Linked DNA regions of Homo sapiens. The protein of the gene in region 1 purifies or fractionates together with the protein of each later gene. This does not show direct contact. Each region holds a gene or a part of one and is shown on either strand. Other genes may lie near its edges. The genes, in order: SPACA1, MTNAP1, SLC25A26, KIRREL1, TTC21B, GOLIM4 and FASTKD3.

Region 1 (3,500 bases):
TTAAGATGAGGTTGTACTAGAGCAGAGTGGGCCTTTAATCCAATATAACTGGTGCCCTCATAAGAAGAGGAATATTTGGGCATGCTTGTGCGCACACACACACACACACACACACACACAAACACAGATGGAAAGTGGGGCGCGGAATGCCAGGTGAAGACACAGAGAAACAGACATAGGGAGAAGACAGCCATGTGAAAATGGAGACAAAAATTGGAGTTATGCTACCAGAATCCAAGGAATTTCTGAGCCTACCAGAAGCTGAGAAGCTGTAAGAGACAAGGAAGGATCCTCCCCAAGAACCTTCAGTGAGAGCATGGCTCGGCCAACACATTGTTTTCAGACTTCTAGCCTCCAAAACTGCGAGACAATACATTTCTGTTGTTTTCGTCACCCAGTTTGTGGTACTTTGTTATGGTGGTCCTAGGAAACTAATAAGTACATAAGCTTAGTTTATCTAAAAGGTGAGAGCATCAAATTTAGCCTATTTTTCATTAAATACTTCAATAGGAAATTGAGCCTATTTTTTTCATTACCTGTAAAAATAGTCTAGGTGACCCTTGCAAGACTACTGTTGTAATAAATAAAATCTTCATGCCCCTCACTCTCCACCCTCTCTCAGCTAACATTGCAGAGTAATGGATAAATGAAATTTGCATTTCTCCTTGTCAGGTGTCAGTTCTGAAAGGTGTTTTTTATTTAAGTTTCCAAAATGCCACCACTTGTGTAAATCTAAAGTTATTTTGAAATAAAAAGATTTTTAAAAATCCAACAATGTTGGAACGTAAATATAGATGTATTTTCTCTAGCATACTTGGAACTATTTAGCGAGATCCCTAACTTGAGTTTATAGCTCTAGAATTACTAGGCAAAATGGAAACTTATACTCCATGATGTCTAACAGATAGGGAAACAAATCCAGAAAAATAAGCAGTTGAGATTGCTCATATAGAAGACTAGTTCTGACAGAGTAGTACTTATCAAAATCAAAGTATTTAAATAGTCAAAATATACCTTGTACAAATTAAACCTCCCTGGGCCTTGGTTTACTTATCTGTATAATGCAATAGTTGGATCAGATGATCTCTGTAGTTCTTTCTTCCATGAATCTTTTATGATTCCAGAATTTGGGGTCATAAAAGAGATACAATAAAGCTATGTAATTCACAAAGTAAGTAATATTCTATGTTAATTGGCTTTTTACTAGTTTACAATGTAGCAATACTGTAATACATACGGTAGATTGGCTTTGTCTCTTTGATAACCTTATTTGCTGAAAGAGCAGAGAGACATGGGAGAGAATGCTTGAGGTAAGAGTGGTGCATGAGGTGGGTACAGTGGTGTGTGCCTATAATACTAGCTACTAGGGAGGCTGAGGTGGGAAGATCACTTGAGCCCAGGAGTTCAAGGCCAGCCTGGGCAATATAGCAAGACCCCATTTCCTAAAGAGAGAGGGGTCGGGGTATGTGGATATGTGTATAGAAAACAATGAGCTTCAATTCCTTTCTTACAGCAAATATAAAAATTAGAGAGGTATCATAGTCTTAAGTGTAAAAGCTAAACCCATAAAGTTTTAGGAAAGAAATATAGGAGACTATTTGCATGATTCAGGAGTAGGCAAACGTTTCTTAGACATAATTCAGAAAACAATCACCATAAAAGGAAACATTGAATAAATCAGACTGCATCAAAATTAAAAACTTCAGCTCATTAACAAAAATCATTAGGATAATGAATAGGCAAGCCAAAATCTGGTAGAAAACATTTATAAAACCTGTACAGTCAGTACAATCAGTTTGAGAAAGTTCTCATGGTTTCTTAGACAGCTAAACACACATCTGTCTACCCTACGACCCAGCAATTCTATTATTAGACATTTAGCCAAAAATTAAGATATATATTCACAAAATGACTTGTATAAGAATGTTCATGGCAGCTTTATTTATAGTATCTCACAACTGGAACAGCCTAGATATCCATCAGTAGGAGGATGAGTAAACAAATTGTGGAGTATACCTAGTAATAATAAAAAAATGATAGTTGCATATAACAGTATGGGTGAATTTCTAAAACATTATTCTAAGTAAACAAATCTTTACACAAGAGATTACCTAGTGTGTGTTTCAATTTATATGTAGTTCTAGAATAGTCAGAGCTAATCTATGGTGGAAAAGAAAATCAGGATGCTTGTTGCCTCTGGAGGATGAGGAAGGAGTTAATTAGGAAGAGGCTCAAGGGAACTTTCTGGGGTATAGTAATATTCTATATCTTGACTAACATTTAGTTACATATATGAGTTTGCCTTTGTCAAAACTAAGCAAATGTACATTTAAGATCTTTGTGCAATTCTTTGTGTGAAAATTTTATTTCAAAGAAAAAACTAATATTAAACTCCAGTTAACGATATGCTTGCTGAAAAATTTTTGAGGAAGTGTACTGACATTTGCAAATTATATTGAAATGCATAAAAATAAGATGGATTAATGAATTGATAGAGGAATGGATAGATGAATTTTAAAATATTAATGGTAGTATTTAGATGGTGGTAATACAGGCTGTTCGTTGTCAAATTCTTTTAACTTTTTTCATGTTTGAAAAGGACATTTCAAACATGCAGAGCAAGATCATTAATAATTTTCTCTGCACTAAGCATTTCTTTATGTTTCTAGAGTTGTTTTTCAAATATAAACTTTTAAGTTAGATATTCATTTCCTTTTCCTCAGTAGTAATACTCCTTAGGTTTGTGTGTTTTCTCTAGAATTGCAGATGAGAAGATCAAGCCTACCAGCCACTGATGCAGCCCTAATTTTTGTGCTGACCATAGGAGTCATTATCTGTGTATTTATAATTTTCTTATTGATCTTCATAATCATAAATTGGTAGGTGAATAGTGGAATGCATCATCACCCTTGATTGACATCCTCTTCTTCCCCCTCCTCATCCAGTGAATTGCAAAGCCCTGTCCGTGATGTCTCCTACATGTTGCCTTGAAACTGTCCATCGCCTTTCATTACTCCTGTGACTGCCCTAGTTCAGGCTGCCCCGTCTCTTTATGTAGATGCTTTTTAAAACAATCTCATGACTTGCTTCTCCAACTATGAGAGAGCTTTTAAATGCAACTTTTACAATTTTACACGGTAATTGCTTTAAAAAGTTTTATTTAATGAATATTTGTGTTGTCCAGTTGTGGTTCTCTCAACTCTAAAACTTGGTTATTGTAACCTACTAATTCATTTGTATGACAATATTTATAATACCTACATGAGTAGTACACCCTGGTAAGTCTGAGGGCTCATATACTATCGATTTGTAGCTGATGCATCGCAAACTAAAAATGAATAATGAATACAAAGGCACTTCTTAGAGAAGAGGTAATATATATGTTTTATATATATGTACATATATATGTACATATATTGTATATACAATATACATATATCTTCTATGTACATATAATGTATATACAATATACATATATCATATATAGGTCATATGTGTGT
Region 2 (3,500 bases), on another chromosome or scaffold:
ACACACACACAGAAAAGTATGGCACTATAACAAACATGGTTTTAGTTATGGTGTATTTTCTACAACATGGTTTAGTGGAAAAGATTAAACTAGGCCTCAGGAAACTAGGTTCTCCTTGCAGCTCTACTATTTATTGGCAACACAAACTTGGACAAATCACTTATGCTCTCTGTGCCTGTTTCATCATCCACAAAATAGGATAAATTCACTCTGCCCACCTCTCTGTCCACCTTGTGCCCAAAATAAAAAAAATACAGATGGAGGCACTCTGAAAACCACAAAGCAACACAAATGTTAATATAATTAAATGTGTTTATTACGGAGAAGGGGCTTGACTTTGTGACTACAACTTTGTGCAAAAAGGTCTAGACGTTAGGCCTGTTTATAGAAGGTAGTTAAAGAAAATGTAGCTTTGGGCTAGCAATGTTCTGCTTTTAGTACACATCCATTTTGAGACCAGGCAAATAGAGGTTTAGTGAATATGAGATCATTTGCAAAATCTACCAGAGAAGAAAATGATTTCCCTTTAGGAAGAGATAATACCAGTTTTTCTCTTGCAAACCTATTCTGAGTTGTTACAGGTCTCCTGTCAAAATAAGCATGAAAGCACCAATGGCCACTACACACGACAGGTATGCTACTTTACAAACGACAGGTATGCTACTTTACAATCACCCTGCCCCTAGAAAAGCTTAAGAAACTTTATGTATTTTAACTAGAGAGGTGGTCTCATAACTAAAGATGAGATTCAGCAGAGAAAAGCAAAGATATTTCAAATGACTGTCAGGAACTTCCTGGCTCCTTGGGCCTTGGTCTTCCCTCCTGTTAACCGATTCCAGCCATCAGCAAAAGGAGCCTCTAGGAAGCTTCTGAAGTTTGATTCATAATCAAGGTGAGTTTCAACGTTCAGTCTTTCGCCCCAAGCCCTTCTCGCCTCATCTCTCCTGTTTCCAGGCTCAATCACTGGTTTTATTCTTGGGTCCTAGTCTCTGTGGCCTACATTTTTTCTTTTGTTTTTGGCCACATCCTCCGTTTCTGGTCCTTGATCTTCACTGTTCATTTCCTGAGCCTCCACTTCCACTTATCTGCCTTGCCTGCCCGTCTTACCTGGCTAGTTTTACCTGTGTCCTACCACCTGCATCCTACTTTGCTACTCTAAATTCCTAGATGTTGCATTTGCCTGAAACCTAGAACCTATTTCTTGTCCTGTAAACTTAGAACCTATTTCTTGTACAACCTGGTCCTGACTGGATTCTGAACACAGTGCTTATTCTATCTAGCTGAATTTCAAGTCTTTATATTTTTCTCCAGTCTGTTTACCCATCCAGTTTCTACTGGACATGCCTCTTCTCAAGGCAGAAACTCAACTGCTTTCAGTATCGCCAGCCTGCCCTAGTGTAACCCTCAACTCTTGGGGGAGAGAAAAAGAGAGGGATAAACCACCACTACTGACCACTGAAGCAAGAAGTAATGTTTTCAGGACAATTTTTTTTTTTTGAGACAGGGTCTCATTCCCGTCGCCCAGGCTGCAGTGAAGTGGCACATACTCGGCTCACTGCAGCCCTGATTTTCCGGGATCAGGTGATCTCCCACTTTAGCCTCTCAAATAGCTGGGACTACAGGTGCGCCACCACACCCAGCTAATTTTTTGTATCCTTAGTAGAGATGGGGTTTCACCATGTTGCCCAGGCTGGTCTTAACTCCTGAATTCAAGTGATCCACCTGCCTTGGCCTCAGCCTCCCAAAGTGCTTAGATTACAGGTGTGAGCCACTACACCCAGCCTCTTTCAGGACAACTTTATATGCAGTCTACTGGCATGCCTAGGTGAAAATAAACTAAATGACTGAAAATGTTAGTATTTTGACCCTTATAAATTCAAAAGGCAGAGAGAGCATTTTGGATGGGACAGATGGCAATTGAAAATAAGCTTGTTTACCTTGTGAGAGTCTTTCCCCCTGGGGACTGATAAGTTGTGGCTTCTGGGTCATTGCATTCCAACACTGAGGCTTCCCTGGCAACACCCCTAGTCCAAGGTAACCAGGATAGAGCTCTGGAAACCACTCCAGCCCCATGCAGCTGCGAAGAGTCTTCCTGCCAGCAGCTGCAGCATGATTGGTGAAGGGGCTCTGAGGAGTGTGACGCTGGGCTGAACATAAAGGGCTCTGGCACCCAGTGTGTGATGCTTGGAACTGACTATCAGATTTGGGCTCCAGAGATAACTGTCCCTCGGGACTCTCCATTAATGCCTTTACATCAGGGACACAATGATGATTCTGGGCTTCTGCTTTCTTTTCTTGAAGAAATGTTGTAGCTAGAGAGGCAAGACTTTGACTACTTGACTGCGATACAGAATGAAACTGGTAAGTCGTCTCCCTCGGAATGAACAAACTTAAATGTGGTCTTTCCCCTTGAGACTCCTTTCCTGTGACTGAATCCCTGGTGTTGAAGTTCTCACAGCCATGGCTCATGACAGTCCGTTCCTGCTTTTCTGTTGCAGACATACTTTTCTCTGCATTTCCTTTGCTCCCACACGTCTCTACTCCCAGGGTAAGTCCTTTCTCTTGTTTCTCCATGACTTGGATTTTACCTAATGAGCTCATTTTAAGGCTTAAAATGAGGGATTCTGTGTTCTTTTCTGGAGTCTCAGTAACTGTAACATCAGTAGGGACTCCTGAGAGGTGATCCCTGCCTTTGGAATCTCTCTCATTGCTTAATAATGTTCTTACCCTTTTAACCCCATCACTGACATTCTTTGGAGAAATATGACAATCACCAGTAGGCACATCTAGTAATTTTACTAGAAGTTCCTGTCTTTGGGGATCAATTTTGTCCAATTTGAGATCACCAGAGGTAGTTTGTACATCATTAGGTAGAGTTGAGGAATATTTTCTATCTTGATTTGACAAAGAAGGTTCTATTGAGCCAACCAGTAAAGACGCTCCAGCTTCTGAAGGATTACATCGACTTTCTCCTGATTTAGGCAAATCTTTGGCAAGTTCTCTTTTAGGAGAGGTTTTCTCTGATGCGTAAAACTGAGCCTTGGTTTCTTCTTGGAAAGTAGTCATTGGTTTAGTATTTTTTAACATTTTGAAGGATGGTTGGATTGGATTCTTGATGTCTTTATCTGCCTTTGTAGTAGCTGCTCTTTCCAAACCAACAGCTGGCAGTGGAAAGGTCTTCACTGTCTGTTCTGGTTTGTCCACCACCAACTTAGAATTTCTTTCTTCATTCTCTGTCTCTAACTCTTTCCCTTTAGCTTTAATTAAATCTTTGATTGGTCCTTTCATCTTTTTAGCACGTGGGAGTGTAGCTGGCTTGGACTGATAAACTTTTTGATCAGTAGGTATGGTTGGTCCTATCATCTTACAGTATGGCAAGTGGGATTTTAATCGTTTAAATGGCTTCTTACAGTAAGGACACACTTCCATTCTGGGTGGATTATCACTCATCCTATTCCTGAAAAAGGTAAATGTGAGATTATGAGAAGCACATAGTTTGT
Region 3 (3,500 bases), on another chromosome or scaffold:
ACAAATCACAATACAATTAACAGAAATCACTGCCTATTACTCAGTTTACGCACAGACAGCAAATAGTTGTTACCTCATCTCCCAGTAATAAATGCACACGACATTTTATAAAAATAGACAGAAAACTGATGAACAAAGATGAAAATGCAAAAAAAATGAAAAGTGGTAACACAAAGTTAAACAAAAATCAGACATAAATGGTATTAGAGAACAAACAGCTGGCCATGGAAATATTCACACTGCTGTCATTAATCTAGATAAGTAACTAGAAAAAATAAGTGAGAGCAAATTTAACATAAATAAGGAAAGTAGTTGTGATGAAAAGGATGAAAATGTCCCAGACTAAGTTATGTCAGCAAGTCTTCGCATTAAACGAACTCACAACATTGAAAGCACAAAAAATAAAATGTTAGAAGTTGATCCAAACTGAGAAAGCAGTATGACAACTTGCCAAGGCATAAAAAGATGCTTCTTCTATAATACATAATGAGAACACAAGCAAATGTTCAAACTACTGTTGATAAGGTTTTGTCCAAAAAATTAAGTTATTAATGTTTCTAATGTTTTTAATTACAGTGTACTAAATAAACATCAGCTTTGCAATTTTTCCCCTATATATTACAACCAAAGCGTTTTTAATGTTTTGACAAAAATTCTTAGGGTGGGCCAGGTGTGGTGGCTCATACCTGTGACACCTCTTTCTACAAAAAAAATTTTCTAAAAACTGTAAGAACAACATGGGCTGGGCTCAGTGGCTCATGCCTGTAATCTCAGCACTTTGAAGCTGAGTCAGGAGGATTGCTTGAGGCCAGTACTTCAAAACCAGCCCTGGCAACACAGCAAGACCCTGTCTCTACAAAACAAGAAAATTTTTAATTAAAAAATTAGCCAGGCGTGGTTGGTGCATGCCTCTAGTCCCAGCTACTCAGGAGGCTGAGGTGGGAGGATCACTTGAGCAGAGACAGCACCACTGCACTCCAGCCTGGGCAACAGAGGAAGACCTTGTCTCAAAAAAAAAAGAAAAGAACGCACATGAAATGGTTTGGCTCTGGGTCCCCAACCAAATCTCATCTTGAATTGTAGCTCCCATAATTCCCACATGTTGTGGGAGGGGCCTGGTGGGAGGTAATTGAATCATGGTGGCAGGTCTTTCCCATTCTGTTCTGGTGATAGTGAATAAGTCTCACAAGATCTGATGATCTCATAAAGGGGAGTTCTCCTGCATACGCTCTCATCTGCAGCCATGTAAGACGTGACTTTGCTCCTCCTTTGCCTTCTACCATGATTGTGAGGCCCCTCTGCCAGCCATGTGGAACTGTTAGTCCATTAAACCTCTTCCCTTTATAAATTACCCAGTCTTGGGTATGTCTTTATCAGCAGTGTGAGAACAGACTAATACAGGAAATTGGTACCCACAGTAGGGTGCTACTATAAAGATACCTGAAAATGTGGAAGCGACTTCAGAATGGGTAACAAGCAGGGGTTGGAACAGTTTGAAGGGCTCAGAAGACAGGAAGATGTGGGAAAGTTTGGAACTTCCTAGAGACTTGTTGAATGGCTTTGACCAAAATGCTGACAGTGAGATGGACAATAAAATCCAGGCTGAAGTGGACTCAGATGGAGATGAGGAACTTCTTGGTAACTGGAGTAAAGGCCACTCTTGCTATGCAAAGAGACTGGCAGCATTTTGCCCCTGCCCTAGAGATCTGTGAAATTTTGAACTTGAGAGAGATGATTTACAGTATCCGACAGAAGAAATTTCTAAGTGGCAAAGCATCCTAGAGGTGACAAAGCATAAAAGTTTGGAAAATTTGCAGCCTGATGATGCGGTAAAAAAGAAAAACCCATTTTCTGGAGAAAAATTCAAGCTGGCTGCAGAAATTTGCATAAATAACCAGGAGTCAAATGTTAACTGACAAGACAGTGGGGAAAATGTCTTCAGGGCATGTCAGAGACCTTCATGGCAGCCCCTCCCATCACAGGCTCTGGAGGCCTAGGAGGGAAAAAATGATTTCCTGGACTGGGTCCAGGGCCCCCTTGCTGTGTGCAGCCTCAGGACTTGGTGCCCTGTGTCCCAGCCATTACAGCCGTGGCTAGAAGGGGCCAAGGTAGAGCTCAGGCTATGGCTTCGAAGGATGCAAGCCCCAAGCCTTGGCAGCTTCCACATGGTGTTGGTACTGTGGGTGTGCAGAAGACAAGAACTGAGCTTTGGGAACCTCTGCCTAGATTTCAGATGATGTACGGAAACGTCGGGATGTCCAGGCCGAGGTGTGCTGCAGGGGTGGGGCTCTCCTAGAGAACCTCTACTGGGGCAGTGTGGAAGGGAAATGTGGCTGCCCCAGTAAGGAGTCCCCACCAGGTCACCACCTGGTGGAGCTGTGAGAAGAGGGCCACTGTCCTCCAGACCCCAGAATGGTAGATCCACTGACAGCTTGAACCCTGTGCCTGGAAAAGCTACAGACACTGAATGCCAGCCCATGAAAACAGCCAGGAGGGGAGCTGTATCCCACAAAGCCACCATGGGAACCCACCTCTTACAGCAGCGTGACCTGGATGTAAGACATGGAGTCAAAGGAGATGATTTCAGAGCTTTAAGATGTGACTACCCTGTTGGATTTCAGACTTGCATGGGGCCTACAGCCCCTTCATTTTGGCCAATCTCTCCCATTTGCAATGGGTGTATTTACCCAATACCTGTAACCCCATTGTATCTAGGAAGTAATTAACTTGCTTTTCATTTTACAGGCTCATAGGCAGAAGGGACTTGCTTTGTCTCAGATAAGACTTTGGACTGTGGACTTTTGAATTAATGCTAAAATGAGTTAAGACTTTGGGGACTGTTGAGAAGGCATGATTGGTTTTGAAATGTGAGGATAGGAGATTTGGGAGAGGCCAGGGGTGGAATGATATGGTTTGGCTCTGTGTCCCCACCCAAATCTCATCTTGAATTGTAACTCTCATAATTCCAATGTGTTGTGGGAGGGACCTGGTAGAAGGTAACTGAATCATGGGGGCAGGTCTTTCCCTTGCTCTTCTGGTAATAGTGAGTAAGTCTCACAGGATCTGATGGTTTTATAAAGGGGAGTTCCCCTGCAGCACATGCTCTCTTGTCTGCCACTATGTAAGACATGACTTGCTCTTCCTTTGCCTTCCACACAACTGTGAGGCCTCCCCAGCCAAATGGAACTGTAAGTCAATTAAGACTCTTTCCTTTATAAATTACCCAGTCTCAGGTATCTTTGTTAGCAGCATGAGAACAGACTAACACGATGTAATCCTACCACCAAAAATACTTAGTGCTATTTTGGAGTATTTCAATCTGGCTTTTTTTCCCCATGAATGGAATAGGTTTTAACATAGCTTTAATTAGGTACAAGCAAATATACATACATGCAATGTTTTTCTCTTAATTTTATCTCATAAGCATTTTCCATGTAATTATAGTACATTCTCTTCACAAGCACTATTTTTTATGGCTGCAGACTAGTCCAAGAAATGGG
Region 4 (3,500 bases), on another chromosome or scaffold:
TAACTGGACTCTCCCCTTTCGGTGCTACACATAGACACATATACACACTTTAGATGTCCCACTTCTGCCCAGAGCAGGGCGCTGAGGTTGGGGAAGAGTCAGGGGAGACATGGCAGAAACCAGGACACTGGGTTCCTCTCTTTGACCTTGACTGAACTCCACTTTCTGCCTTCTACTCACTTAGACCCAAAGGGAGGGTGTGAACCAAGTACTCAGTGCCTCAGCCCTGGGCCCCAGAGCACCTGGTCAGGAGGAGGAGGAGGAGGCATCCAGGCCTTCTCGCCTCTGCTCCTTCCCACAGCTGAGTGGTTGGTTGTTCTGGCTCTGCCTTTGGCGCTCCAGTGAGATGGGAGGAGGAAGCCCCACCTCTGCCCCCCTAGGACCTCTTTACACCCTTACAAGGACTAAGTCTTAATTTCTTTTATCCTATAGTTTCTGGTGGTAAGTGCCCCTTAAATATCTGATCAATTGATTGATTTGATGAGCGCGCTGCAGTGCTGGAAAGAGGCAGCATTCGATGGCGATTAAATCACAGACTCGCATCCAGCTCCCACCTCCACCATTTGGTAGTCGTAAGCTTGAACAAGTCATGTACATTCCCTGTGCCTCAGCATGCTCTTCCAGAAGTGAGGATGGAAGTAATACCTCATAGGGTTGTGGTGGCACTTGAATATGTTAATCCATGTAACGTACATGGAACAGTGTCTGGCACAGCGAGAAGTGCTCAGTAAATGCTTGCTATCTTGGCTTTGAGGTGAGACATAGATAGACAGGCAGTCAAGTTGTCTGCGCTTCCTTTTCTTCTCCCTATGATTCTTTGTGGGGTGTGTGTGTGTGTGTGTGTGTTTTCTAGCTCCAGCTCCCCAGATTCTTGGTCCTGGGCTTCAGTAAGTGCCTTCTTTGTATCTCTCATGGAAAGAACTATGTTGTGGCAGACCCAGAAGGGGAAACTGACCCCCTCCTTGGAGACCTCAGAAAAGATCTGGGGAAGGGATTTGAGGAGAGAGAGCAAAAGTGGAAGAGGTTGGCACTTGAGTGAGAAGGAACCAGAGCTCTTGTGTGAAATGAGGAGGGACACTAGCCCCGAGGTGGCAGCATTTCAGAGTCTGGAAATAATATGGATCATTTATTGAGCCCTGTGTAACTACTTCATATGCATTATCTAATTTAATCTATGCTACAGCCCCCTGAGATTGGCTGTGTAAATTATCCCCATTTCATGGATGAGAAACTGAGATTTATTTATTTATTTTTTTAGATAGGGTCTTGCTCTGCTGCCCAGGCTAGGGTGCAGTGGTGTGATTATGGCTCACTGCAACCTCCTCCTAGGCTCAAGCCATTCTCCTACCTCAGCCTCCTAAGTAGCTAGGACCACACACACCTGGCTAATTTTCTTTTTTTTCTTTTGGAGAGATGGGTCTTGCTAGGTTGCACAAGCTAGTCTCAAACTCCAAGGCTCAACCGCTTCTTACATCTCGGCTTCCCAAAGTGCCGGGATTATAGGTGTGAGCCACTGTACCTGGCCAAGAAACTGAGGTTTAGATACATTAAGTATCTTATTGGTAGTTGTAGGAACCAGTGGATCCCACAGCCTGCACCCTTCTCCTTTGCCAGATCCTACATGCCAGCAGAGACTGATGCTGGACTGGGACAGGGATTTTCCTGGTCCATAGCAGAATGAGAACTAGGAAGAAAAGGGAGTGAGTATTTCATAAAGGTAAACTCATTCAAATTTAAAAAACAATCCTTTATTCTGAGATTCTGTCCTACATTTTTTGGTGTTAAATTGTTTTTCTTTGATGATATGATAAATCTAGTAAATGACTTTTTTCAAGGACTTGGCAAATAAAAAGGTTTGTTTCTAATATTAAACACAGCCTTGTTACAGGTCCATGAACTACAAATTTGGGAATTATTCTTGTTCCATGCAAGGCTGACTCCTGGAGAGGCCCAGAGCCATACAGAGGCAAAAGAAGCACTGAGAAGGGGTCTAGGGGATAATCCTGAGACCAGGATCTCCCCAAGTGTCAGCTTCCAAATTTGTCTGGTCCCTGGTAGTCTGGTAGGATTGGAGGCTAGGGTCTTAGATGGCTTGTTCTAACCCGCCTGGGGAGGCTTTCAACCCTCCTTCTTAGCCTGTGCCCTGGGGAACTGCCTGGCCTTGGGTGGTGAAAAGTGATTGTAGGAGGTGAACTCCATACCAAAGCATCAAAATTACCTTTTATTGAATTCCTACAGTGTGCTTTTCAGGTTAATGTTACTCCCATTTTATAGATGAAGAAACCACAGTTGAGAGTTTAAGTAACTTGCTGAAGGGCATACCTGAGGTGTTAGACCCCAGATTCAACCCCTCTTTTGTCTCCCTCCTAAGCGCCATGAGTGCCCTTCAGCCTGCCTAGAAGAGCCACACCCTGCCTTTCTTAGAGTTAAGGCAGCTGTGGAAGGACAGGAGGGAAGCCTAGGCCTTTTTTCCTCTCCTGGTGCCTCACTCAGCTCAGCCCCCTTCCCTAGTTCTCAGCCCAGAAATTCCAAGGACACATCTATCTCCCTGCCTTGCTTTGATGATCATTTGTGAAGCAAAACTTAGATGTCAGGATACATGTTTTAATCAGTGGGGCTGGGACCAGTAAATAATGCCCCTTGTCAGAAGGAGGTTTGGAAAGCCTCAATCCTTTTCCTCCCACGTTTAGAGTCTTTTATCTTTGTACCTGTATGGTGCTTGGCAATTTTAGCAACTTTTCACATGTACCATTTGATAGAGAGATACACTCATCCTATGGTGTAGGCAGGAGAGTTGTTTCTCCATTTAATAGATGAGAAAACAGAGACCTAGAGAAGTTAAATAAATTGCAAAGGGGTGGCAGTTGGTATGGAGGGAAGGGATGGGGACAAATTCCTTAATCTCCCCAATTTCTGGGAGATGTTTCCATCTGAGGCTAGAGACATTTCTCTTCATATGTCCAGAGATGAGAAAGTTATGCCCCTTCCCGACCTACCAGTTCCTGTCTGGTTTCTTCCCAGGGCCTCTGGACCAGTTTACTTGGCAATCTCCTGGAGGGTTCTTTGACCTGGAAAAGGATGGGGGTGTGGGGGTGGGTTGTCAGCAGTAGAGGAGAAAGAGGCTGTCATGTCCTTGATCCTCAAATGTGAAACCAGGGAGGAGGAAGAGGCAATTTCAGAAATCAGGAAAAATAATGGGCTCTCTCAGAGTGGGGGAGAAATCCGTTCACTTTTGTGAAGGGCAATTTTGTATTTTACATGCATTAGTAACTAATTCAATACTGACATAATTGTTGAAGTTAGGTGTTATCCCCATTTTACAGATGGACAAACAGGGATCCAAAGAAGTTAAGCAGATTGTCCAAGATGATCCAGCTAGTAAGTGACAGAGCCAGAACTAGAACCCAAGCAGGAAAGATGGGGTGGGGGCTGAGGATAATTCCTAGAAGGAAGACTGCACACCTACCTGTTCTGCATTACTGCTGCATGCAAGCGTGTGG
Region 5 (3,500 bases), on another chromosome or scaffold:
TATGGGATACATTATGGAAAAAGAGCAAGCATATACAGATGCTGCCTTGAACTATGAGATGGCATGGAAATATAGCAATCGGACAAATCCGGCAGTAGGTGAGTTTGGCAATCACCTAGATTTTTCACAGAAAAATTATGTTGTATTTATTAATTTTCATTTAAATGCATTTGATTTTTTTCAAAACAAAATAAACATTGAGTCAATTTTCATTGTCAACCTTTCTGAAAGGAGAATAAATTTTATATTCATAATATATTATTAGCTACTAATAGTTCAGTTTCCTGAGTTCCAAACTTGTCCTCAGTCACTTAGTGTACATCTAGTCTAATTCTGCCCCCTTCTCTTCCTTCTAAAAGAAGGTGCTATTTTGAAATTGGGAATGCCATGGAAAAAGATGTTTCCATTGCCAAGTAAGTTAGGAAAATATTGCATTAAATTGAATTACACAGGTTTCTTTACTTCTCAAAGCCTTTAAACACTAACGTATATTGCGATGGATATCACAGAGGGGCCATGTTTCCCACAATTATTTGACCATGGGACATTTTTTTTTTCTCCTGAGCATCTAGAAACATCATCCAGTCCCAGGCTGGATGTTGCAGGCTGTTAGTTTGGGTAATGCTAGTCTACAGTGTCCCTAACAGAGGTGGCATCAGAATATATGTCATGACCAACCTCTCTCCTCATACGAGGGAGCTCATCCTCATGTTTGTGTACTCTTTCTTTGTATTGGGTTGAAATATGCCTCCTTGAAACTGCCCAAGTCTGTTTTCCGGAGCAACTTACAGAATGCCTCCCTCTTACAGATCATGACCCTTTAAATTGCAATCTTCAGTCCTGTGTCCTAGGACTTGTCTTCAAGCCATCTGCAGTTACTTGTCCATTCTTCCTAAGATTGGATTCCGAGTCTCTCATCTTCCTTGTTGCTGTCTCCTGGAAGCTCTAAAATAGTGTTTCCCAAACTGTGCTTTGGAACAGTTGGGGAGATTTTAATAATTATTTTTTTTTTAATTAAAAAGAATGAAGTGTGAAGGTGGTAGATGCCATGGCCATGTAAGTTTGGAAAGTGCTGTTTTATTTTTCCATGCCCCTCTGACCTGTTGTACCATAAATGAACAACCTCTCAAATATGATTTGGCTTCTTATAAGTATAATTAAGCTATTTTTTTCTTTTGATTAGGCAATTTGTAGTTGTTAATTCAGCCTAAGATGGCATCAGTCTTTTCAGCAGCCATGTCACCGTGTGAATTCGATTTTGATTTGCAGTCAAATGAGTCAACCTCATACTAACTGCTGTTAGCTCAGGTCTTCCCTCATCTGTTAGTTTCCTGGAGTCTGTTCTCATACTATACTAGACTTGTGCAAAGCACAAAAACTAATGATTTTTATAGTATTTTTTATTCTAAGGTGTGATATATCTTTCAGAATAAAGTCATCTGGTAAAATGAAAAGTCCTTAAATATCCTTAAAATATTAATTTTGACACTTTATTCCATAGAAGGAATGCACATAGAAGTTAAATTATTTATATATTCCATTCCTTGGAAGACCTCAGCAAATAAAGAGATTCCAAATGACTAGTTCTTTCATTGTGTCATCATTGTATTTTATAGATTATTTTATCAGTTCCTCTAGCTTTGCTTTGGTAATCATTTCTTTCTAAGGCTCTCCATTAATTCCTCAATTTCATCCTTAAGATTGTCATTGCATCTAACACCCTCAATGTGCCTGGCCAAATAAACAATGTATTTCACTTTTTCAGTTGTCAGAAAACCCTTAAAATCATGCTCATGGCCAGGCGCAGTGGCTCACACCTGTAATCCCAACACTTTGGGAGGCCGAGGTGGGCAAATCACCTGAGGTCAGGAGTTCGAAACTAGCCTGGCCAACATGGTGAAACTCCGTCTCTACTAAAAATACAAAAATTAGCCGGGCATGGTGGCGGGCGCCTGTAATCCCAGCAACTCAGGAGGCTGAGGCAGGAGAATTGCTTGAACCCGAGAGGTGGAGGTTGCAGTGAGCCGAGATCACACCACTGCACTGCAGCCTGGTTGACGGAGTGAGACTCTGTCTCAAAAAAAAAAAAAAAAAAATCGTGCTCATGCTCTTTCCATAGAATTCAGGGTTGAATATTGTCACTATAAGAGGCACCAGGATGAATGATGAATGGATAATTTGCTTGACTGCAGTAATCATTTATAAATAAATATATATACACACACACACATATATCTACACACCCACATCTACACACCGACATCATTTTGTATATCTTAAATATATACGAGGAAAAAAAGAAACACACTAGGAACAACTGAGATCCAATGAGAGAAGAAACTACTCATGTTTCACCCTTCATACCTATTCTCAGGTTATAGGACAGTCATTAGACTGTGTAGAATGTTTGCATTCTCTCGCTGTCTCTCCTGATTGCATATAGTTGAGTTCTAATAAGTTTGGCAGGTGTAGTGCAGCTGCAGTGCACATTTTCTTTCCCCTTCTTAGGTCTTTATTTCCTCTGAAATTTTTGTACCAGGTCATGTATCAAGTTTCTTCCAGTGTTAAAATTCTGTGATTATAATATAGTGAATGCTTACATTAAAAAATGCTAATATTTTGTGGTATTCTAAGGTTTTAAAAACCATTTCACAAGTATTTTATATGATTTTTAAAATTATACTAAGAGTTAGAGGGAGGAGTTGTTATTCCTGTTTTAGCGATGAGGAAACCTGAAAATGACAGCTCAAGCCACTTGCGTAAGATCCCAAAGCTAGTCAAGAAACCACAAACCAAAACTGAAATCTTGACTAGTTCCCATGTAAGTATGTTTGGCATGACATCTTAAAAATTGCTTTACTTTTTGAATGTCACAAACCCTTTTAGTTCATTTTAGAATTTGTTGGTAATGACATTAAGTTTACCTCTCTGAAACTTCTTATTTTTGTCTAAAATCTGAGATGTGAGATTCTGCCATAGGCCCTGCCCATGTGTGCCTGTGTGCATGTGTGTGTGTGTAGAGATATATATATACACACCTATATAGACATACATATATATACACACACATATATAAACATACACACATATATATATGCAGTCATGTGTCGCTTAACAATGGAAATCTTCTGAGATATGCATCATTAGACAATTTCATCATTGTGTGAACATCTTAGAGTATACTTACACAAACCTAGGTGGTAGATCCTACTACACACCTGGGCTATCTGGTATAGCCTATTGCTCCTAGGCTACATACCTGTACAGCATGTTACTGTCATGAATGCTATAAGCAATGTGTGTATGTAAACATAGAAAAGGTACAGCAAAAATACAGTATAAAAATCTTTGGGACCACCATCATGTATGTGGTCTGTTGTTAATGAAACATCATCATGCAGTGCCTGACTATATATAAAATAGTGTGAATTTTAGATCATTTCTATTTCTTTCTTTTTACTACCATCTGATAATGTTAGCCAGTAATTCTTTTCAAACAT
Region 6 (3,500 bases), on another chromosome or scaffold:
GCATTTTGGATGATTGAGGAAACATATACAACAGAGTGGTTCATAGACCTCAGCAATTTAGACCACAAGTGTGGGCAATGTGTGGTAGGTGTACTAATTTTCAAGTGCAGCGTTAGAACTTAAAACATGAACTAGACATTGTCTATTAAATGGACATCTTCACTGAAGTACAACTTAGAGTTAAATGAAGAGACTATCATTTTTGCTTGATCCTGTACCATTTAGAATATGGAACAAAAATACTCTTAAGTTCAGTAATTTTTATTTGTGTGTAAATTCCTTCCCTGAATAAAAGATAAAAGCTTCCAAATACCTTTTGAAGCTCTAATTCAGTGAAGCATTCTTTTGAATATGTATGATTTGCACATAATCTATAATCGATTTCACACGTTGTGCCCACCTTAGTCATCCCTCTAATATGTAACATGCCAACTCTAATGAGAGTACTGGTGTCCAGGTAAATAATTGGTTGCTGTGTAAGAGAATTACTTGTTATCTGGGAGCCTTTAGTTTAAGTTCCAAGTAGATTGGAAGCCTTGCCTTGATTTCTTTTTATTCTTTCTTTTCTTAGGAAGGACAGTTTCCAAAAGGGCTGGGGTACAATACCACATTACTGTGGCTGAAGGAATAAGTGAATTGGAGTTGGGGAAATGAATACTGACTAAATATGGTGTGAATCAAAAAGCAAAGGATTGGAGAGAAACCAGAAGAGGGCAGGGAAAGAAAAGGGGACACATATCACCTGGTGACTTTTCAAAGTACTGAGGAAGAGTTTTGTTCACATCTTTATGTCCTAAAAGAAAAGCAGCAGGAAATGGTGACTGGAGAGCTGGTTGGGGCATCAGATGTGGTTTCAGTGCAACTCAGGCATTTACCAGCAGGGTGACCTTGAGCAGGCAAATAACCTCTCTGAACTTCAGCCTCTTCGTGTTTTAATTTGGGTTAGCAATGTCTAACTTGCAAACTTGTATGGATTAGAAATAGTGCATCTGAAGTGACGAGTATGAGTCCTGGAGAATATTACTACTACCATTTATTAGGTGACCAGAACTACTGTTGTTGAATTAACATTGGGCTTCTTTTTATTTTGCCCAGCCTTTACTACATCTAGTAGGTAAGAGTGTTATTAGTGCTGGCCTAAAAGTGGCTCCTTTCACTATGTGCCCTACTTGGCTGAAACTTTTTGATTAAGATATTCTCACTCTGTCTTTTCTACCCTTTTGAGCCGTTCTTGGGGTGGAAAAAACCTGAAAATGCTTTACATGATAGCAACTAAGAGTTGTTGTTTTTCATTTTGACAGCCAATGGTTCTTCTTTTATCATTAAGGACAAAGTGGTTTTGCTACTTTTGCCAGTAGATGGTTTATGGGTTTTATAGCTTTATTTTGAAGTGAAAGTTATATATCATATAGCTTTATTATAAAAGAAAAATGATAAACTATATTTTCTTTTTAGCCAGTGTTCTTTGGAGTGAATTTTAGTAGAATTTTGAAAACTTATTTGAGAAAATTAAATTATTTTTAATCCATAACATTTATTGAGTACCTACCATGTTCGGGTTCAATGCTAAGCTTATTACATGCATTATGTCATTTAACTGTGACACTAGCACTTTAATCTGAATGAGCAATCTGAGGCTTAGAGAGGTTAATTAACTTGCCAGTGTCAAGATCTAGCCTGATGAAACTAAGCTTAGAAACCTAATGTAACTTTTTCCATAGTGCATCATTGCCCTCAAAATTATTTTAGTGTCTCTCATGACAGTATTAATGGTTTTAAGAAAGTAGGTTAGGTGGGTCATATGGGGATTCATGATAAAATTTAGAATCAGAAATAACGGGTGTACTATTTGATGCAGCATTTCCAGGGTACAAGAAATTTGCTGCTGGTATGAAAGATGATTTTGGTTGATACTAGAGTTGATTTTATGTGGCATGTAGATGTTGCCTGAAATGACAGTGAATCATATAATGAAAAACTTATTTCCTTTCAATGCTTTCCTGACAAGTAATGGAGAAATTCTCAGTCTGATGCTAGAATCTCTCTCCTAGAGAGTTGCTTCTCTGTTTTTCCAAAGAGAATAGACGTTAGGCAGCCAACAACTTGATAGCTAGAATTTGATAATTGTTTTGTTGTATTATTGTATTTAATTTTAAAATTAAATCTATTACCAATCATTAATGCTATGTAAATCAGATTTTTCATTTATAAAGTAGTGGTGTAAAAGTTTCCTGTTTAAAGTTTATTTTAAGGAAAAATAAACTTATTTAAGTGATTATTTGGTGGATTCAAAAAAACTGTACAGGTTTTGCATGAGTGTAGTAAGAACTCGCCTGAGGGGTGCCTGCATGTCTGAAGTTTAGGAATGCATTGACTGATCAAGTTGGATACAGACACTGAATTTTACAGTTAGTTAACTGAATTCTAAGGTGGATAAGTCACTTACCAGGTAGCTTAAGCTAAGCTGAGAGCCCACATACTCTGACTCTCAGTACAAGATAATACCCCTTCACTGCTCTGTGCTGTCTCTGTAGACTAGGACCCTCTTCTCTGTGAGAAGAAATGGGCATTGCTATTTTTAAACAGTGCTGTGTATTTCTGAATGGTATATTTGTGTTCTTTGTTTTTATTGGCCCATGAGTGCATATGCAGAAGACATGTCAGTCATTGTCCTTCACTGATAAGCTTTACTAAATAGGCTCATAGCCCGGAGGGACATGGGCATGAAATAAATTGCTCTCTATAGCCGTATGACATTTTAAAAAATACTGCTTTAACTATTTTTCATACATAAAATGTCACAATATGATAGTGAATAGAAAATTAAGATGTGCTGTCATTCTGAAGGATAGGCATTATAGAACATTGAAATGATATTATTTGCTTTTCTTTGGGAGTGCATGAAGTTAAAAAAATTATAATCATTTTAGGAGAGTCAGACATTTCATTTTCCAGTTCACATCTCATTTAAAATGCCTCCTTTAATTGGAATCTTTGTTACAAACAGAAAAAATAATCTGCAAATCAAGATATTTAGGACAGCTTTGACATTGCTTATGTGTTCTCTTGATAATAGCTATGATGCTGTCAAATAAATATTATAAACAGATTAAAATTTGGCAGTTGATAATTGATTAATTTGGTTTAGAGAAGTTTATCAAGTTTTATATTAGTGAGATTTATTAATAAATAATATTAATATTAGAAATCTATGATGCTTGCCCTTCTGCATTAGTAGCTCAATCTTTTAACAGACAGAAAATGTTTTAAATTATTTTATATTTTATTTAGAGGTTTGGATGCTATAAAACAAGTTAAATTGTATTGATGTCAAACATCACTTTTATTAAAATATGAAAAATAATTTTTTTTACTGTATAGGCGGTCATCACCTCAAAATCTAGATGCCATCCAAATTTGATCCAGGTGTGGGTGAGGCCCCTTAGGTATCCATACAATCTTTAACTATAATTCTTCAAGTATGCTTCCTCTTTATCTGT
Region 7 (3,500 bases), on another chromosome or scaffold:
TTAAGTAAGTCTTTGAGGTCAATATTACTATCATTTTACAGAGGAAGAAGCAAGCAGAAAAAGGTTAAATATTCTGCCCAGGATATTCTGCTACTACGTGGCTAATATTTGAGACTTAAACCCAGACAGTCTTGACTCAACGGCTCTGCTGCTAACCCCAACTTGCCTTCAGGGAAGGGACCATTCCATTTTGCATTTCCAGAGAACTTCTATTGCTTCTAAGTCCCATATATCTCCAAAATCGAACAGGATGCTTAGGTTTAAAACAACAAAACTCCTTATACTACTTACCTATTGTATAACAATAGGGTGTCAACACTTTTGGAGCAAAATATAATCTTGCTCCTAAAAGGTTAGTCAGCCCAATCTTCACATATCTATAAAGCTGAGAATCCACAGGGGTCTCCAGGGAACAGCATGGGGTAAGAAATGACTTCACTTGATATTTAGGAAGGAGTTTTGGACCCTAAAAAATCATAAGTGCAAATGTGAGAAAGAAAAATAAGATATAACAACAGAGAATAAATTGAAGGTTACCTAGGTAGAAAAGTTTGATATAACATTACTTTATAGGCATGATACTTTTCCAGGAATTGGGACAGGCATCTCTCTCAAAATGATAATGCAAACTTCTCTTCTTACAGTGCAAGTCTAATAGTTCAAAATGTCTTTTATATGTGTTTTTACAGTAGTCACTGGTTACCATAAACAGAAAGAAAAGTAAAGAAGGAAGGTAAAAAGGAGTGAGGAGAGAGTGAGAAGAAACATAATAATGCTAACAGTTCAAGAAACATTTTTAGAACTGAGAATTGTCCCAAGGGTCTTAAGTACACACAACTAAAGTTTTCAACACAGGTTTAATTTCTCTAATCTGAAAATCCAAAATCCAAAATGCTCCAAAATCCGAAACCTTTTAAGCACAGACAGGCTGCTTAAAGAAAATGCTCATGAAGCATTCTGGATTTCAAATTTTTGAATTAGGGATGCTGAACTGGTAAATATAATGAGAATATTTTAAAATATGAAAAAATCTGAAAGCTGAAACACTTCTGGTCCTGAGCATTTTGGATAAGGGATACTCAATCTGTAATGGAAAATGTGATATAAATGACATTCCAGTTTAGGAAGAAAAGGATAGCAATATAATAAACGATGCTGGAGAAAATGGTTATTTATTTGGAAAATAACTAAATTAAACTTCTGTCATCCATGACAGATGCTAATAAATTCCAGGTGTACAACATGCTGACTATAGTTAATAAGAATGATTGCGTGCTTGAAAATGGCTGAGAGTACTTTTTTACCTTTTTTTTTGTTTGTTTTTGTTTTTGTTTCTGAGACAGAGTTTCACTCTTGTTGCCCAGGCTGGAGTACAATGACGCGACCTCGGCTCACTGCAACCTCCGCCTCCTGGGTTGAGCGATTCTCCTAACTCAGAGTCCAGAGTAGCTGGGACTACAGGCGTGTGCCATCATGCCCGGCTAATTTTTTGTATTTTTAGTAGAGACAGGGTTTCACCATGTTAGCAAGGCTGGTCTCGAACTCCTGACCTCAGGTGATCCACCCGCCTTGGCCTCCAAAAGTGCTGCGATTACAGGCATGAGCCACTGCGCACGGCAAGAGTACATTTTAAATATTCTTACCACAAAATAAAATGATAGATATGGAGGTAATACACATGTTAATTGGTTTGATTTAGCCATTCTACAATGTATACATATTTCAAAACAACATGAACATAATAAGTATATACAATTTTTGTTAATTAGAATACATAAATAAAAATTCAATTTTACTTTTAGATCAAAGATCTAAATAAAATTTAAAAGATATTATTTTTAAAAATGTAAAATATTCATGCTCTTGAGATAGGAACCTCGGAAGTCATAAAAGACAGATTCGACTACAGAACATTTAAAAATACATCATAAGTAATATTAAAAAGTAATAAAAGAGTACAAATCGGGAAAATATGTACAACATTCATAATAGTTAATATCTGTTTTACAATGAGTCCTTAAAGACAAACCATCCAACAGAAATAAATTAAGGTGTAGAAAGGCAATTCAAAAGAAATGTAAATGGCCAACACATATTTGAAAATATGCTAAACTTCATTAATGCTCATTAAAATGCAACTTAAATATATGATATGATATCCTCTTTCATGTAGTTGAGTAACACAAATTAAAGAGACTACTAACACACTGCAATAGAAGTGGAGGAGACATGGCCACCTTCATTCATTGCTGGGGAAATGTGACATCTGTAACTATTAGGGAAAAAAAATCTGCCAGTATCCATCAAAAATTAATCCACTAATCACATTTTTGGGAATCTAGTTTATATATGAAAAAAACCAAAAAGGCTCTAGTATGACAGGATTTGCAAGAATGTTTATTATAGCATTCCCGATAGAGACAAAAGTTGCAAAAACCTCCAAGTGCATCAATAGTAGAATAAACACCATGAAATATCATGCCTTTCTAAAAAGAATGCATGTGATCTGTATGCACTGGCCTCGAGGGATGGCCATGATATACTGCGCATAAAAGCAAATTGTACTTTGATTAGTGAGTCTCATTCCTTGAAAAGAGAAAAAAAATAGACAGTGTTTATGTATCTGTATACATTTGGGCGTAGAAACTGCTTTTAATACTGTTCCTTTAGAAATGGTAAGAGATCGGGGTTAACTATTATTTATCTTTATATAACTTAGTACTGTCTAAGCTGTTTTAAAAAAGGGGTATTTTTCCATTCTTATTACCTTATTTCAAAAATCAGATACTCTAAACTATGATTCAGAGTCAAGTAGAGAGAAGCAGAGAGAGAATGTCATAGTCTGGTGTGCTATTTCTGATTCTACATAAGGAATGTGATAGGTAATAGGATAAATCTTTATAGGTCTTTATGGGAAGAGCGAACTCTAGATAAACTAAACTCTATTAGATAAAAGTGAAATTTCTGGCTTGGCTTAAAAATATACTGTACTTGCAAATAATTTAGGTATTTGTTCAGTCCAGACATTCACACTTTGATAACAAACAGCTATGGGAAACCTAGTAGTAAACCTAGTACTAAAACCCTGTAAAACCTTCAGAGAGAATGGAGAAATACTGTAACTCACATGCCTGCAGCACTTGATAAAACCTCCTAAGAAATCTTAAACAGCAGGAAATTGTTCCTTCAAGAACAAGAACACAAAAATGGGGTCCATTTATCAAAGAAAAGCCTATCTGGTGGCAACTGACTCCAAGTAAATGAAATTCTGCTTTTTCAGGTTATTGAGACAGATCAGAAGTAAAGGAACTTAAAAGGAAACTGCACCCATGGGGAAATAAAGCCACATATAGTTCATGCTTTTACCTTATAGAAAGGGCATTCCAGGACTGAGGCTAAGAAAAGTTGGGTCAGTTGTGCCCGACTCAATGTGTCCAAATGAGATTCTTTACCTGAAACAGAAAGCATCCCAGTCATAGTTACGTCTGAATTGAGGTATG

The links.
Region 2: the proteins of SPACA1 (region 1) and MTNAP1 purify together in Homo sapiens (affinity purification with mass spectrometry; 3 studies listed by BioGRID and IntAct, with this or other methods). This does not show direct contact.
Region 3: the proteins of SPACA1 (region 1) and SLC25A26 purify together in Homo sapiens (affinity purification with mass spectrometry; 3 studies listed by BioGRID and IntAct, with this or other methods). This does not show direct contact.
Region 4: the proteins of SPACA1 (region 1) and KIRREL1 purify together in Homo sapiens (affinity purification with mass spectrometry; 3 studies listed by BioGRID and IntAct, with this or other methods). This does not show direct contact.
Region 5: the proteins of SPACA1 (region 1) and TTC21B purify together in Homo sapiens (affinity purification with mass spectrometry; 3 studies listed by BioGRID and IntAct, with this or other methods). This does not show direct contact.
Region 6: the proteins of SPACA1 (region 1) and GOLIM4 purify together in Homo sapiens (affinity purification with mass spectrometry; 3 studies listed by BioGRID and IntAct, with this or other methods). This does not show direct contact.
Region 7: the proteins of SPACA1 (region 1) and FASTKD3 purify together in Homo sapiens (affinity purification with mass spectrometry; 3 studies listed by BioGRID and IntAct, with this or other methods). This does not show direct contact.

What each region holds. Positions count from the first base shown.
Region 1 is NC_000006.12:88,061,341-88,064,840, forward strand, and holds part of SPACA1 (sperm acrosome membrane-associated protein 1 precursor), read left to right. Parts: intron 1-2,739; coding exon of another isoform or gene 2,740-2,758; coding exon 2,759-2,879; intron 2,880-3,500. UniProt on the Homo sapiens protein: Plays a role in acrosome formation and establishment of normal sperm morphology during spermatogenesis. Important for male fertility.
Region 2 is NC_000017.11:73,235,433-73,238,932, reverse strand, and holds part of MTNAP1 (mitochondrial nucleoid-associated protein 1), read right to left. Parts: intron 3,458-3,500; 5' UTR 3,451-3,457; coding exon 1,938-3,450; coding exon of another isoform or gene 1,837-1,937; exon of another isoform or gene 295-1,836; intron 1-294. UniProt on the Homo sapiens protein: Critical regulator of mitochondrial DNA (mtDNA) abundance. Binds dsDNA throughout the mitochondrial genome without sequence specificity and controls mtDNA copy number by promoting its replication.
Region 3 is NC_000003.12:66,224,001-66,227,500, reverse strand, and holds part of SLC25A26 (mitochondrial S-adenosylmethionine carrier protein), read right to left. Parts: intron 1-3,500. UniProt on the Homo sapiens protein: Mitochondrial S-adenosyl-L-methionine/S-adenosyl-L-homocysteine antiporter.
Region 4 is NC_000001.11:157,996,645-158,000,144, forward strand, and holds part of KIRREL1 (kin of IRRE-like protein 1 isoform 1 precursor), read left to right. Parts: intron 1-3,500. UniProt on the Homo sapiens protein: Required for proper function of the glomerular filtration barrier. It is involved in the maintenance of a stable podocyte architecture with interdigitating foot processes connected by specialized cell-cell junctions, known as the slit diaphragm.
Region 5 is NC_000002.12:165,877,277-165,880,776, reverse strand, and holds part of TTC21B (tetratricopeptide repeat protein 21B), read left to right. Parts: coding exon 1-98; intron 99-809; coding exon of another isoform or gene 810-949; exon of another isoform or gene 950-3,500. UniProt on the Homo sapiens protein: Component of the IFT complex A (IFT-A), a complex required for retrograde ciliary transport and entry into cilia of G protein-coupled receptors (GPCRs). Essential for retrograde trafficking of IFT-1, IFT-B and GPCRs.
Region 6 is NC_000003.12:168,085,925-168,089,424, reverse strand, and holds part of GOLIM4 (Golgi integral membrane protein 4), read left to right. Parts: intron 1-3,500. UniProt on the Homo sapiens protein: Plays a role in endosome to Golgi protein trafficking; mediates protein transport along the late endosome-bypass pathway from the early endosome to the Golgi.
Region 7 is NC_000005.10:7,862,532-7,866,031, forward strand, and holds part of FASTKD3 (FAST kinase domain-containing protein 3, mitochondrial), read right to left. Parts: intron 3,453-3,500; coding exon 3,367-3,452; intron 467-3,366; coding exon 292-466; intron 1-291. UniProt on the Homo sapiens protein: Required for normal mitochondrial respiration. Increases steady-state levels and half-lives of a subset of mature mitochondrial mRNAs MT-ND2, MT-ND3, MT-CYTB, MT-CO2, and MT-ATP8/6.